Regions from separate parts of the Homo sapiens genome. Here region 1 is linked to region 2. The links come from fine-mapping of genetic effects on gene expression. Tissue or cell type: blood mononuclear cells. Region 2 holds a variant in brackets; the other region holds the start of a gene. All regions are shown on one strand. Distances are from middle to middle.

Region 1 (8,095 bases), 110 kb before region 2:
GGAGAAATAGGTGCAAAATCAACAACCTTAACACGAGTCTATTTCCAGTCATTTGTAGATGAGAAGTGTGCTTTGGGAAACTTCATTTTTAGATTCCAGTGAATTGGGTATCATCAGTTACAGAGAACCAACAAAATATGAAATGTGCACATAGGACTTCCCTGCAAGAGTAGAAAGGAATCTGTTGCCTTATGCATATGTATCTTGGACTGATAAATTGGATCACAATCAAGTCTTCACCCTTCATGTTATATATGTAACTGAGGAGGCCAGGTTTGTTTCATAATGGCACCTTCATTTTTATTTTTTTCAATGTACACACTTTATTTGTATATTAAACAAGTAGAAATATGTTTTTCCCCATCTTTCTTTAAACATGTTCTTCTCCCCATATATCTTCTGTTTACCCATTTTTAACAGGAACATGAGCATTCAACCTATTCCATTTTTTCTTATATGCAAAGGCAGAGTGCAACTGTGATAGGGGCAATTGATTCTTAGCTTTGGTTTTGGGGACAATATGGGGTGGTGGGAACTACGGCAAACTGGACAGTACTGCCTTAGCTGAAGGCAGCAGCCCCTATTCAATGCCAATCAATTGTTGGCACAGAGAATGCAGGCCTTATGTCGCCAGGTTTTCCAAAATTTCAAAAAGAATCCAGAAGTCTCAATTTTACTGTGCAATTCTCTAATTATCAAATATTGCTAGCCAATTTAATTTGGAGGTTGACACCCAGCAGACCAGATAAAACATATCTATGGGCAAAATTGAAGGCTGGGCATGGTGGCTTATGCCTTTAATCCCAGCACTTTAGAAGGCTGAGATGGGTGGATCAACTTGAGGTCAGGAGTTTGAGACCAGCCTGGCCAACATGGTGAAACCCCGTCTCTACTAAAAATACAAAAATTAGCCGAGTGTGGTGATGGGCGCCTATAGTCCCAGCTACTTGGAAGGCTGAAGAGGAGAATCACTTGAACCCGGGAGGCGGAAGTTGCAGTGAGCCACCATTGCACTCCATCCTGGGTGACAGAGCGGCACTCCATCCTGGGTGACAGAGCGACACTCCATCTCAAACAAAAACAAAAACCAAAATCAAAAATGAAACAAAATTGAGCCTATGGCTGCCAGTTCACAATCTCTGGTTTTAAAACTGTCAAACAGAACCCTAGATCTACTATGTAGCCATAACTGATGTGGTTTTTCTAAGCAGTATAGAAATATAGTTCTAAGAAAGTCAATTATATTCCTAGTTAATGTGGTACTTTACAAACAATAGAGAAATATAGAATTATGAAAGCAAATTCCCTATGGTTAGTGAATCAAAATAAAATAAGGTTAGGCCCATCACAGAGTGGCTGCAAGTGGGAGAGAATTTACATTCACAGGGAATGTGAACAGATTAGGAAAGAGGCCTCAAGTGGACAATTTTGTCGGGATGCAGTTCGCCTTATGTGTTAGCTCCACATGAGGCCAACCTGGTTCTCGAGCTGCTTTGGCTACTGGAGCCTCAATCCCTTAAGAGGTTGATCTAGGGTCCCCCCTCTGTCTTGCCAGTTGTCCCCCTCCACAGGCCGCAGCCCCGATGAGAATATCCACAACCTCTAATAATAGAAGCCAAAATCCAATGGACAGAGAGCACTGTGGTGTACCAGTAGGTGGTCCCATCAAGGGACTCACAGCCACCATTCAATTCAAGGTAGTTGTGTCCATTATCCAGGTGGAGAAATAAAAAATCAGACCAAGGGCAAGATTTGCCCAACTTCACCCTGCAGCCAGGGCCAGCATTGGACTGGAACCCAGACTCCTGATCTCCAGGCCAACCATCCCTCCTCTGAGCCCTCACCGCCCAGGCTGGCATGAACCCTTTCATATCCGAGTGCTCTGTGTCTCCACTGCGATTTTGCTCTTGAGGGTGGAGAGTGAGTCTAATCTTCTTGCTTACTGGCAGGCAGCATGGCTGAGTGGGGAGGAGCATGGGTGTTGCATCTGCCATTCATTAGCCTTGGAATGTTTTGAACCTCAGCTTTCTTATCTATGAAATGGGGATCATGACAGTATCACCTTTCCATGGCTGTTGTGGGTATTAAATGAGATAACACAGCTAAAGCATTTAGCAGAGGGCTTGGGACATAATCCACACCAAGTAAGCATTAGTTGCTTATATCCATTCCCATGCCATCTCCTCTGCAAGGCTAACTCACTTGGCAAGAGGTGACCCATCCTCTAGAGTGGAACTGAATCAAACACAGGAACTGACCACAGAGCCACGGCCCACTGTGGCTACTTGGTGCTTCAGGAAGAGAGGTTTCTAGTGTTTACCTGGCTTCAGAGCTGTCCAGGTCTCAGCCAACTTCAGCGGTGCCTCTTCTCACTCCAAGATCTCACACTATGTGCCGGGTGGTAATCTTAATAAAAAGCGACCATTGAGGGTTTACCCAGTGCCCTGCGATAAGCTCTGCACAGATGGGTTAGTCTGCCCTGAACCGCCTCACTCCCACTGAGGGCTTTCGGAGGCAGAGCCTGGTTCATGACCCCCACATCTCATCACAGGGCCTGGTGTGATGCCTCACCCAAGACTGTGCTCCTTCATTCATCCAGCGTTTATTGGCATCTCCTACTACCTGAGCTGTTTTAGGCAGGGAACAAAGCACAGATAAGCCCTCCTGGAGCTTACATTCTGATGAAGGGGGCAGGCAAGGTATACATAGGGAGGAAAGCCCTGGAATCCAGTACATTAAAAACTTTTATTAGGATTATCTCTGCTGCATTTAGTTGTATGTATCCCTTATGGCCCCCAGGCAGGTCCACTCCTGGGCATTCAAGTCGGTCCATGTGTCAGGCGTGCAGGGTGGGTCACAGCATCTAGGAGCTCAGTGCAGCTTGGGACTTTGGGACATACGCTCCACCTCTCTGAGCCTCAGTCTCCTTGTCCATCATATAAGGAAATCACTGATTCCAGCCTTCCTGGGCTGTGGAGAGGATTCCCTCAGCGGCTGTGAAAGAGTGCTTTCTTGCGGGTCAGCCCCGACAGGACAGACTTAAGGGCGGGAGGGAGCCCATCCCGCTTGCCCCAACGAACGCGGGCGCGGGGCTTTCCTCGCAGGTTACATAAGGCAGCCGCGGGTGGAGGCAGCAGAGGCGAGCGCACGTCCGTCGAGGGGGAAAGGGGCGTGGGGAGGCGGCCGGGGCGGCCGGTATCCCCCGGGCGTGAGTGCGCAGCGCGCGGGGGAGCGCAGGGCGCGGCGGAGTCGGGTTTCAGAGCGCGGGTGACTCGGGGCGCGGGCCGGGAGCCGGGATTCTGCCCGCCGCCGCCGCTGCCGAGCGCCGCCTTTGTTCCCTGCAGGAAGGGCGAGCGCGGCGGCCAGCGCTCAGCGACCCTTCGTCCTCCGCTAAGCTCCAACGCTCTGCTCGACTAGCCGCGCGCCTTCCGGGGCTCCGCAGACCCGCGAGATGGCACCAAGGTAAGACCCGCTTCTCTGCTTCCTCGCGTCCCGGGCCCCTCCAATACTCTTGCCCGCCTCACCTTTTCTCCCTCGGGCACATCTTGCAGGAGGAACAACGGGCAGTGCTGGTGTCTGCTGATGCTGCTCTCGGTCTCCACGCCCCTCCCTGCTGTCACCCAGACCCGCGGTGCGACAGGTAAGCAACCCGGTCGGAGGGTGGCACCGGCTGCCTCCGCGCCCGTGGGGGAAGTCGGTTTTGGCGGCGGACGCGGCTGCGATGCGTGCCTCATTCCTGGACATAAAAGGGAGTCTTGCCACTCAGTGCGCACTGGCGGTCCCGCGGGCGGCTACCTCCTGGCAGTGCAGGGGTTATAGCTGTGAATGGGATCCCTGGGCAGCTGGGGCGGTTGGAGCGTTGTCTGGGCACCCGAGATGTCTGAGCTGGGTGCGGAGCCTCCAATCTTAGGCAGAGAGGGACTTCAGAAACAGCGCCAGCGCCAGCGCCAACAGCCTCAGCGCACCCAGCGCCAGCAGCTTAGGTTGTGCGTGCTGGCTGGCTTCTGGTAAGGGCAGGTCTGGTGCCTCTCCGCACACAGGTGCGAAGCATGAACACCGGGAGGGACATCTGGGGCTTTTGCTGCTCAAGAAATAACGGAACTGAATTGCTCGGTTGCTTAACCCAGCTCTGAGTTACCTAAGCGGTCACGTCTATCATGGGCAGTGGCTCCACCGGTGGTGGAAAGAGCTGTGGCCTGGAAGCCAGAGATCTGATCCCTTCCGTTCCCCGGGCCTCAGTTTCTCCAGCAGAACTCAGGCGGTTGGCTGAATAGTAAGATATAAGTTAAAGTAGACCTAAGTTAAAATGGGCCTCGGTTAAGGTCAGACTGCCTGGGTTTGAACTGTGGCTGGCTGAGTGATCTTGGGCAATGGATTTCATCGCTCTGTGCCTCAGTTTCCCCATCTGAAAAAGGCGATTAATTAGACCATTTTACCTTCCTAGAAATGTTGTGAATATTAGAGAAATTAGAAATAATGTGCTTCCCATGATTCCAGTATATACTAGGCACAAAATAAGTGATAGAAATTACTGCTTGATTCTTGCAGTAACTATGTGTTGGAAAGCAATGCAAGTATTTTTATTTTTATTTTAGATTCAGGGAGTGGTCATGTGTGGTTTTTTACAAGGGTATATTGCACGGTGCTGAGGTTTGGGCTTCTATTAATCCCATCGCAATGCAGGTATTTTTATAACATTGAGGTTGAGAGAAGCTTAGAAAGTGGCCAGTCCAAAAGCCAGGACTTGAATCCAGGTCTGTAGGCTCTTGCCCTTGCTCAGCTCTTTCTCCATGCAGTTTTGCAGAAGAGCCATGCTTTCTATAGCTTCTGACCCCCTCCCCTTTGAATTTGGGGGATTAGTACACATCTTCAATTGAATAAGGGAACAGAAAGTCTAGGAAACAACCTCTAGTCGGCCCAAAGGAAACGGGATTGAGAAGGTGGCCTTGGTTAACTCTTTGTTTGCCTGAAGAAGCCCAAGACAGCCCATTGTCTCCTGGGCAACAAGACCCAAATCCGATGATAGCTTTTCCTGCCAGAGTGTCCAGCCTGGCATTTATTGCAGATCAAAGGGCAGCTGGAGTATAGTTTTAGCTTCTCAGCCCCATGGCTCATGTCAGAAAGTTGCAATTTTGCATATGATATAGGGCCCTGCCAACTCAGTGGCAGAGGCCAACTTTGGGTTCCATGGTCTTTTGTGAACTTTGCTGCAACTTCCAGTTTCCCAAAAGGAAGATGGATCTGGGGATAGGAACTTTGGTGTTTCTTTCTCCTCCTGTGTGTGTCTCTGGGATCCCTCAGTGTCAGGGCTGTTGTTTCTAACACAAAGGAAGCCCTATTCCCATTTATAATGTAAAAAGGGAGGGCCAGCAAACCTTCAGGAGCTGAGAACGGTCTAAGGAGGGCCATTTGCAACTGATGGGTTTTCAGTGCCCCTTTGGGGATGTGAAACGATTCCTAAAAATGTAAACTATCCTCCTGCAAACTGCATTTGTAATGCAATTTAATATCCCTAATACTTATAAAACACTTTGTATATCCAGGTGGAGGTGTGAACATGTTCATATTTCATTCATCCAATCCTTACAACCACTCCAGGAGGTGAGGACTGAGAACAGTTACTATCTCTGTTTTTCAGATGAAGAAACAGAGGTCCAAAGTCACAAGACTTCTAAGTGGCTGGGGTGGGATTTGAACCAGACAGTCTGACTCCAGAGTCCTTGCTCTTAACCATCCTAGTGTGTAGTTAGAAGAGCTTCACGGATGGAGAAGGCTTTAGGGGTTCCATGGTCTCCAATGAGCCCCACAATCTGAATGTCACAATTGTAACATGAGTCCATTGCATGGCATTGTGCAGTCTTCAAAGCACAATGTCACCTTCACCACGTCCCTGGAATCACCACCCAGCAGTGCTGAGAAGTAAATTGGGCTCTGTCTTACAGAGGGGATGTGACTTCCTCAAGGCCGCATGACTGTAACTGGGTAGATCCATAATAGCCCTCTCACGTCTGTGAACTTCTGGGCTGGTGCTGTTCCTTCCATAGGACCACTGCCCAACTGGCTATAAAAAACAATTGCCAAGACTTCATAGCACTATGAACCAGCAGTGTTTTAAGTGCCCTGCCATGAATGAGCTCAGTCAATCATCACAACAACCCCATGTCTTATCCCCTTTTACAGATGAGGAAACTGAGGCACAGTCTTTTGCCCAAGGGCATGTAGCCTTCAGTAATATAAGCACAATTTGAGCCCAGAGGGTCTGACTCCAGAATCTGTACTTGTAACCACTATGCTGTATGCTTAAGTGGGGTGGCTTCTGAAAGCATGTTTGTAAGTGGGCTGTTATGAGCGGAAATACATGTTCCCAACGATTTGGCAGTTTCTTAAAATGTTAAATATATACTTACCCTACAATCTAGAACTTCCACTCCTAAGTATCTACTTAAGGGAAAGGAAAGCATATGGCCACCCAAAAACTCATATGTATGTTCATAGCAGCATTATTTATAATGACCAAAACTGGAAATAAAGTTAAATTCACCATTAGCTGGTGAATAGATAAACAAATGAGGTGTATCCATTTAATGGAATACTACTCAGCAATAAAAAGGAATGAAGTATTGATCAATGCTACAACAACATGGATAAACCTTAATACCATTAAGCTAAGTAAAAGAAGCCAGACATTAAAAAGCAATACATTGTAAGAGTCCCTATATATGAGATTTCTGTAAAGGCAGAACCACAGAGACAGAAAACAGAAGCAGAGATTGACTGCAAAGGGGCATGAGGAAACTTTTTGGGGAGTGTTCTAAAACTGGATTGTGGTGGTAGTTGTGCAACTCTATAAATTTACTAAAATAATCTAACTATACATTTAAAATGGGTGAATTTTATGGAATGTAAGCTATGCCTCAATAAAGCTGCTTCTTAAATAAAAGAATGTATTTTCCCAGAGCATCTAGGCCCCAGATCTGGTGGGGCTTCAAGGTGGGGTTCCTAGCCAGCCTGGTACAGAGCTGGCACACAGCTCACAACTTAAAAGCTGCTGGCCTCTTAGGGCATTGATTCTCTCAGAAAATGGGTCCAGAGTTCTGCCTGCACCTCCAGGTCTCTGGATCGACTCTCCCTACTATCCCTGAATGCCATTGTGGGCCCAGGACAGGGCTCCTCAGGTAGGGGTAGAACACATGCATATGGGTTTTTTGCAGGTAGTTGATCTGTTAAAAAGTGGGTCTTTGTAAACTTCCTGATATCCTGCACGCCCTAAAACAGCACAAGTTCAGGTATTGGAAAACCTGGGTTCCACTCACTGACTTCCTCCATGAACTTAGATGAGTTGCTTTTCCCACTCTGAGCCTGTTTTCCCATCTACGAAGTGGAGAGGCAAGAGTCACTCATCTCTGTAGTCCTAATTTAAAATGTTGGGAAACAAAACAAAATAATATTTTTCTAGTTTGAGGTTTGATTATTTCACATAGTTTAGTTCAACAAACCCATTCTGTGCTGGCCCTCATGCTGGCTGGGTACAGAAAGGATTTGGGCACAGAGCTGCCCCAAAGGGGTCATAGTTCACAGGAAGAAAGAAAGGGCCACAGACAACTGTAATGCCATTTTTCCTGAAGTCTTCTCATCTACCATGCAGAATGTCCTGTGTGCAGCCAATCCCATCCTTCTACACCATCCTGTTTAAAGACACACTTGTCGGCCGGGCGCGGTGGCTCACACCTGTAATCCCAGCACTTTGGGAGGCTGGGGCGGGCAGATCATTAGGTCAGGAGATTGAGACCATCCTAGCTAACACGGTGAAACCCTGTCTCTACTAAAAATACAAAAAATTAGCCAGGCATGGTGGCGGGCGCCTGTAGTCCCAGCTACTTGGGAGGCTGAGGCAGGAGAATAGCTTGAACCTGGGAGGCGGAGGTTGCAGTGAGCCAAGATCGCGCCACTGCACTCCAGCCTGGCAACAGAGGGAGACTCTGTCTCAAAAAAAAAAAAAAAAAAAAAGAGACACTTGTCAGTGGGTGTCACCCACATGGCCTCTTGTACCTCCAATGGTCAGGGTTGAGCTGGAGGACAACACCAATCCTTCCTT
Region 2 (8,105 bases):
TGTACTATAAGCTGGAGGCAGAGCTTGGGGATTAGCCAGCTCTTTCCCCATCCTTGTTGATTGATGGGCAGGTTGGCTGAGGTCCCTGGAGAGAAGGTAGCTGGTCAAGGCCACATGAAGGTAGGTAACTTCCAGGCCATTAGTCACACTGCCTTATTCATGACATTGGTGGAAAATTCACTCCACACAAAGAATGATTAATGGTGAATGCATCAGATAACAGAAGCAGAATGGAAGGTAAGGAGATATTTTTAGAGGAGCTGTTTGATTCTTCTGAAATTTTATCAAAGGAGCTCCTAGATAGGTGTGGTTTTCCTAGGATGAGAGATTTTTCCAGGTGAAAGGAGAGAAAGTCAAGCTGTGCCCCCAACAAGAATATGACTAGATCATTGACCTTTGGTCCCAGAGCTCACTGTGAGGGTAGAACCAGCAAAGCCAGAGATCAGAGTTCTGCCTCTAGCTCTGCATCTAATTTGCTTCATGATCTTGGGCAAGTCCTTTCACTTCTCTGGGCTTCAGTGTCTCCATCTGTGAAATGCAAAGGCTAGACTAGATGATCTCCAAGGTCCCTTCTGCCTCCAGGAGTCTCTGGGGTTCTCTGTAGAATCATTCAACATAATGACTGGGCTGCCATCTTGGAGGCCTTACCCCACCTTGAATTGTGCCCAAGATTGAGGATAGTAATAACAATAGCTGGTGTTTATTGATTTCTTTTAAATATTCTCATAAAAGGACTAGATGGGACTTCGAGTGATGAATGATGCTTTCTCTCTGTTATTGTGTGCTTGCCTTGACAGGGCCAAAAAGGGGAGACAGTCGTTGGGCCCCAAGGACCCCCAGGTGCTCCTGGTCTGCCTGGGCCACCTGGCTTTGGAAGACCTGGTGATCCTGGGCCACCGGGGCCCCCGGGGCCACCAGGACCTCCAGCTATCCTGGGAGCAGGTTAGTGCCGTAAACAGTGCCCTTGTTCATGCTGTCCCTACCATTGTGTTCAAGGTCACAGCATCTGGGTGGCTTGTCACAGCTGCACTGCCTAACAGAGGGCTTTCCTGGATACCGCCTTCTTTCTTTTTTTTTTAATTGAGATACAATTTGCACATCATAAAATTCACCCACCTAAAGTGTCTAATCCAGTAGTTTTTAATATATTCATGAAGTTATGCAGTCATCACCACTGTCTAATTCTAGACCATTTTCATCACACCAAAAAGAAATTTCATACCAATTAGCAGTTGTTCTCTTTTCTCTCTTTCCCTCTCCTCCACCAGATCTGGGCAACCATGAATCTACTTCTGTCTCCAGATTTGCCTATTCTGGACATTTCATATAAATGGAATCATATAATATATGGCCCTTTGAGTCTGGCTTCTTTCACTTAACACAGTGTTTTCAAGGTTCACCCATGTTGCAGCACGGAGTTCATTCCTTACTGTGGCCAAATAATATTGCATTGTATAGGATATACATTTTGTTTATTCATTAATCTGTTCATGGACATTTGGGTTGTTTCTACTTTTTGGCTATTATGAATAATGCTACTATGAACTTTCGTGTACAAGTTTTTATGTGAACATGTTTTCCGTTCTCTTCAGTATATACGTAGGAGAAATTGCTGGGTCATATGGTAACTCTATGTTTAACTTTTTGAGGAACTGCCAGACTGTTTTCCGAAGGAGTCACAACATTTCTCATTCCCATCAGCAGTGGCAGTGTATGAGGGGGTTCCAATTTCTCCTCCCATATTATGGTATCCTCATTGTATCTTTTTGATTATAGCCATCCTACTTGGTATGAAGTGATATCTCACTGTGGTTTTGGTTTGCATTTCCCTAATGACTAATGATGTTGAGCATCTTTTCACATGTGAGTGGAAACTTCCTGGCTGCTTTGTCAATGCCTTAGGGGCGTGAGAACCTGTCTTAATGACCAGCAGTGACTGGAACTCTGTATATAAAAATCTATTCATCCTTTAGAGCCTCACCTCCTCATATGCAAAACTGGCAAAATTAAAGAAAATCTCTATGTAATGAGCATGTATCAGATGCCAGGCATTTTGCTAATCACTTTGCTATGGTATTTTATTGAAACCTCACAACAACACTTTAAAAAAAGCATTAACATCCCCATTGTACAGGTAAGGAAAGTGAGGCCCAGAGACATTTAGGAACCTTTCCAAGGTCACACAGCTAATAAGTGACACCAACAGGATTCAGACCCAGAGCAGTGTAGCTCCAAAGCCTGTGTTATTTCTACTATGTCCATTGGAGGAGACAATAATAGCAGCAATAATAGCATGAAGGCATACTTTTTTGTTGTTTGGCTTGGCAGGAGCCAGGTATGGTGGAAGCATACCTGGAAAGAGACCTACAGAGTCCTTGGCATAAGGAGAGCTTTACACAGGAGGTGACTTTGGGGCTGGGGCTTTGACTTAGCCTTGGATCTTTTGGCTGCAAGTGATAGAAACGTAACTCAAAGTAGCTCAAGCAAAGGGGAAATGTACTGGGTGTGAAGGAGGGAGTGAACAGTCAACTTGTGGGAGAGGTAGATAAACAGCTGGACCTCAGGAACAGCCAGAGCCAGGGACTCAACCCCTGCAAGGATTCTCTGGCCATCTCTTGTCTCGGCTTCTCTCTGCATGCAGTTTCACGCTTCCTCACCACAAACCACATCCTCTGCACAGCGGGAAATATGGTTACTGACAACTTACAGCTTCCACTGTCAGCTAGAAATCTTGAACTTCTTTTACTATTTTAGTTTGAAAAGTCCTGGGATGGGGAAGTCCTAGAGAAGGGTCCTGATGGGCCTGACTTGGGTGAGGTACCCAATCTTGGACAAATCACCTATGACCAGGAGGTCGGATCACATGAGAACATGGTAGCTCTTTCTGGAACCAAATGGTTGTAGAGGTGAAGGGAAGGTCCCAAGAGAAGGAGATGAGGACACTGGTCCTACAAAGGAAGAAGGTGCCGAGTGTATGGAACCACAGGTGCCCACACAGCCATGAGGGAGGAGTAGGACTACAGGAGGTGGAGGCATATTACAGGGTGAGTGCAAGGTGGAGAAAAACTGTTGTCCACAGCAACACTACATTAGGGCTGCCGGGATGCCTTGCTGCATTGAGCAAGGATTGCTTCTCACATAATGTATAGCAATTCAGTTTACAAAACACTTTCATGGCCATTATCCCATGTAGTCTTCACAGCAACCCTGGGAGGAAGATAAAACAGATATTATTATAAAATTCATCTCACGGATGAAGACACTGAAGCTCACAGAGGTGAAGAGACTTACTTGAGGTCACAAATTCTATTAGGAGGCATGGCTGGGATCCAAATCCGAGTCCACTGGCCCTCTATCCACTAGACATTTGCCACCTGTGTGTGGGTGTTCAAGTCCTATGTTGGAACTGAACATTTGCTTGCAACGACCTGAAGGACTGTATAATTTTACTGGGGCTTGTAAAAACACCCTTAATTCTGCCAAGAGCTTGGCAGATTTGGAGGAGTTGTCGGGGGTAGGGTGAGCAGAGGATGAGAGAGGTAGAAGAACAGCCAAAGGAATAGTTGTAATTATACTACTTTATGTTTGCCTAAAGTAAGGGCTTTTCAGTTGAGGAATCATAGACTCCTAGAGAGTTCAAGGATATACCTCCAGGATTTGTCATCCCAGTAATATTTTTTTATAGAATTATGTGTGCATTTCTCTGGGAAAGAGGGCACTAACCTTGATCTGATTTTTAAGGGCACTGTGACTCTTCAAAAGCTAAGAGCTCCTGGCCGGATGAATGCTGTACATGTACAATTTTCAAAGCACTCAGTTCTCACCGCAGCCCAGGGAAGAAGAAATGCCTATTTTACATTTTGCAGATGAGGAAACAGCTTTGGAGAGCTTGCTGTTTCCTCGAGATCACACAGCTAGGAATGGACAAACTTAAGGACTTGAGTCCATGTCTCTGGCCCCAAGGCCAGGGCTACTGTCACTGCACCACCCTGGTCTCCTCCCACTCCCTAGAGCCTTCTCTTCCTCTTTCTGAGCCTGCTTCCTCTGTTCAGTGTCACATGCTTGTCTCTTGGGTGAAATAAGTTATATGAGTCAGGACATTTTTGAATGCAAGTGACAAAATATTCAACTTAAGCTGGCTTTTATAAAACAACCACAAAAGGAATTGATTCACTTATGAAACGGAAAAGCACTAGCCATGGCTTCATCCAGGGTAACAATCAAGAATCCCAGCTCTTCCCTGAACCAGTCAATGTGGCCTAAGTCACACGCTGGGGGCACAGCACCCAAGATACAGGTGGAAGTTGGGATGCTTTGTGGCGCTGTGAATGGGGTTGAACACACTTCTCTCCGGGAGTCAGCTGATACCTCAGACATTTTTCAGAGTGTGGTTTTTGTGTAACTTCTCTTTTCTGTTTTGTCTTAGCTGTGGCCCTTCCAGGTCCCCCTGGCCCTCCAGGACAGCCAGGGCTTCC[C/T]GGATCCAGAAACCTGGTCAGTATTATCATCAGTGTGTAGTCATCATTCCATTTGGGATAGATATACTTAAAACTCTGCCTACGATCTCCTGTGTCTGACATCCCTTGGGGATCAGGCCTTCATGATAGTAGGCTTGGTGCAATTCCATAAATAGTAGAAGGGATTTGTTATCTATTTGGATGACTTATTAAGTAAAAAGACGTGAAAAAACAAAATCATGTATATGTAAGTTCCACCATTCGAATCCTTAATTGACTAAGTTATAACAAGAACCAATCATATTACTTATATATTTTTATATATATATATATATATATATTTTTTTTTTGCTGGATGAGGGGTGGACGGGGTCTCACTCTGTCACCCAAACTGGAGTACAGTGGTGAGATCACGGCTCACTGCAGCCTCAACCTCCCTGAGCTCAGGTAATCCTCTCATCTCAGCCTCCAGAGTAGCTGGGACTACAGATGCACACTACCACACCTGGCTAATTTTTTTTTTTTTTTTTTTGTAGAGACAGGGTTTTTGTTACATTGCCCAGGCTGGCCTTGAACTCATGGGCCACCAAGGTGATTCTCCCACCTTGGCCTCCCAAAGTGCTGGGAGTACAGACACGAGCCACCACGCCTGGCCACCAATAATAGTATTTCAAAAAGCATAAACCTGCTCGGGTGCGGTGGCTCACTCCTGTAATCCCAGCACTTTGAGAGGCTGAAGCAGGAGAATCACTTGAGTCTAGGAGTTCAAGACTAGCCTGGGCAACATAGTGAGATCCTGCCTCTACAGAAAAATGTAAAAATTAACTGGGTGTGGTGGTGCATATCTGTAGTCCCAGCTACTTGAGAAGCTAAGGATCACTTGAGCCTGGGAAGTCGAGGCTCCAGTGAACCATGACTGTGCCACTGCACTCCAGCCTGGGTGAAAAAGCAATACCCCATCTCTAGAAAAAAAAGAAAAAACAAAACAACAAAAGCCCAAGAGCATAAACAATGTTACAACAGGTCCTTGTGCTGGTCAGATTTACTTGGATAATTCAGTCTTCTCCATTCTGCCAAAGAACATCTCTGGCACATTCGTTACCCTGCAGTTCGTTGGAACAAGACATAGCACTCCAAGATTACTGTAATGCACAGAAAAATGGACAAATACTTCACAAGGATGTCAGGAGTCCAAAAATGCTCTTTGATCTTTGCTGGATGTTAGTTGCAAAATTTGGCTGCCAAAAGAAAGAACTGTCCTACATATGATGGAATTCTGATATTTGGTTCCCTTGGGGATATCTAAGTCATTTTGATGCACAAAGCCATTATCTTCAAGGCTAGGTGAAAATTAATATTTTATAATCTTTCTCAGTTACAATGAAAAATAAAAACTCTCTTGGCCGTTATTTCTTTGAGATTTGATGCTATTCAATAGATTTTTGTAGCTTCTGTATGTGCTTCTAGATATGCCAAATGGCTGTCTAATCTTTGGCACTTTTCTAGGCAGAGAAATTACAGACCTCCATTTTCTATCATGCATTTAATGTAACTACCAAGCTAGACAAAAAAGATTTAAGACCTTAAGTATAGTTGCTCACTTGCTTGCCTTTCTTATTCCAAATGAAAAATTTGAAACTCTTCAAGGACCAGCATGAAGTAACACCATTTAACCATGTTAGTGCCACCAAGTAGCTTAAAAAAATAGAAGTGGTAAAACTTACCAGTGCTTTTGCTAATACCCAAACCAAAACAAAGATAACTCCATTGACAATTTGTAAATGTCTTTATACTCACATAATATTGTCATTTTTGTTTTAATTCATTTATTATAAGTTAGATTTGTGTTTCAAAGTATACATGTTTTTGTTTTATCAAGAAGAATGCCCTTTAGTTACTAATGAAGGTATATACCTCTATCTGGCACATTAACAAGCCTCTTTATTGAGTATCTGGGGACGGCTCCTAGTTGACTTTACAGAGAGGCCAGGTTATCAGATGGTGCCATTCCTCTAATGATAATGGCAGTGTTTGGAATTTAAATGATCTGACAGGTCACAGCATTCAGCAACATGGATGACATGCTGCAGAAAGCGCATTTGGTTATAGAAGGAACATTCATCTACCTGAGGGACAGCACTGAGTTTTTCATTCGTGTTAGAGATGGCTGGAAAAAATTACAGGTAATTTCTAAACTTCCTTTAACACACTGCCTTCAAATACCCTCTAAAAATAATAATCTACTCCCATAAATGCCATTTTTTTCTGTTTTGAAATGGGAGAAGTTTGTAATTGATCTTTCATTTCAATGTACTGTTTTTCTTAAAGCTGGGAGAACTGATCCCCATTCCTGCCGACAGCCCTCCACCCCCTGCGCTTTCCAGCAACGTGAGTAGTTACCCTGTTGGACTGCTCATGCATTCATTTATCAGCATTTCCTGAGTCCTCCTTGGTATCTAGCACCAAGCTCTCCAAACTCTGGACAGTCAGCTGTGCACGGTTTAGTATCTGGTGAAATCCTAGAAATTAATGGGTGCTAACAGGAGGTTCCCACAGTAGAGCGGAGGAATAACTAGATCCAGAGGCTGGAGACCTGCTGTTCCCATGTAGTAGCCAAATCTTCTTGGGCAGAGGGCTTCCTCTATCTTGGCCTCAGTTTGTTCATCTGTGGAATCATTGGTTGGTATAAGCAATCTAGAAGATTCCTTTAATTTTTGGCACCATCTGCCTCATAAGAACATGGGCAACTGGCATTGTCCATCTTCTAGCCCTAGAGCAATGCTTTGAGGTGGGTACTATCATCCCCGTTTTGCAGATTATGAAACTGAGGCTCTGAAGAGGTAGCTTTCTCTATTAAGTGAAAGAGTTGGTGATTAAACATGGGTTTATCAAAAAGAATGCCCTTCCTTGATTCAGTGCTCTTTTTAAAACTCTTGAGAACATTTTCTCCCTTTCTGAAGATGATTTCTTCAGCAGGTCATGAAACTCTTTACAGTTAAGAGTCACAGTTACAGACAATGGCAAATTATTTAAAGCATCTTCTCAAGAAACATTGCACTTGCACCTCAATACACTCTGAAGAACAGATTGAATGCATATTCAGAACTGTTTCTTTTCCTCCTTTTCATAACAGCCACATCAGCTTCTGCCTCCACCAAACCCTATTTCAAGTGCCAATTATGAGAAGCCTGCTGTAAGTACAATTTATACATTTAATCTTCAAATACTGAGTGTATATCTGCTAAGTGCTAGGTCTCATGCTTAGTACACAGTTCCTACCATCATGATACTTATAGACTAGTGAGAGAGGCAAACAAAAAACAGAGAATTACAATACAGTGTGGTAAGTTGTTTGGGTGAACCAAGCACAGGGTGCTGGGGGTATAAGGGAGGGCAGAGACGTCTACCTGGAGGAGGTTACCTCCAAACTAAGACCCAAAGGACAGCTGAGTTCGGGAGTGAGCCAGGTGGGAGAGAGGCAAAGGGAAGATGGAATAGAGGGAGGTAAGGGGAAGGGCTGTGCATTCCTGTAATTGCTAGTATTAAATTACAGGCAAAAGAGTAGAGTTCAAGGCAGAAAAGGGAGACATTTAGTCTGTGGAAGTCAGCAAAGCAAGTGCTAGGTTTCAAGGGTCTGCAAGCCAAGCCAAA

What was found. PIP is the estimated chance that this variant, and not a neighbour inherited with it, causes the effect.
Region 1: COL15A1 starts here. The variant in region 2 is fine-mapped to the expression of COL15A1 in blood mononuclear cells (TOPMed, PIP above 0.99).

What each region holds. Positions count from the first base shown.
Region 1 is chr9:98,940,611-98,948,705 of GRCh38, forward strand. COL15A1 (collagen type XV alpha 1 chain) reads left to right here and starts at 3,297. Exons shown (of 42, transcript NM_001855.5): 1 at 3,297-3,462; 2 at 3,552-3,640. The coding sequence starts at 3,452. It overlaps COL15A1-AS1 (COL15A1 antisense RNA 1), which reads right to left and starts at 4,042. Exons shown (of 1, transcript NR_198999.1): 1 at 275-4,042.
Region 2 is chr9:99,055,463-99,063,567 of GRCh38, forward strand. COL15A1 (collagen type XV alpha 1 chain) reads left to right here. Exons shown (of 42, transcript NM_001855.5): 35 at 798-942; 36 at 4,427-4,491; 37 at 6,509-6,637; 38 at 6,783-6,842; 39 at 7,588-7,647. Among named protein-coding and RNA genes, the nearest start is that of TGFBR1, 46 kb to the right of the region's middle. The variant C/T (reference allele first, on the strand shown) is at 4,476.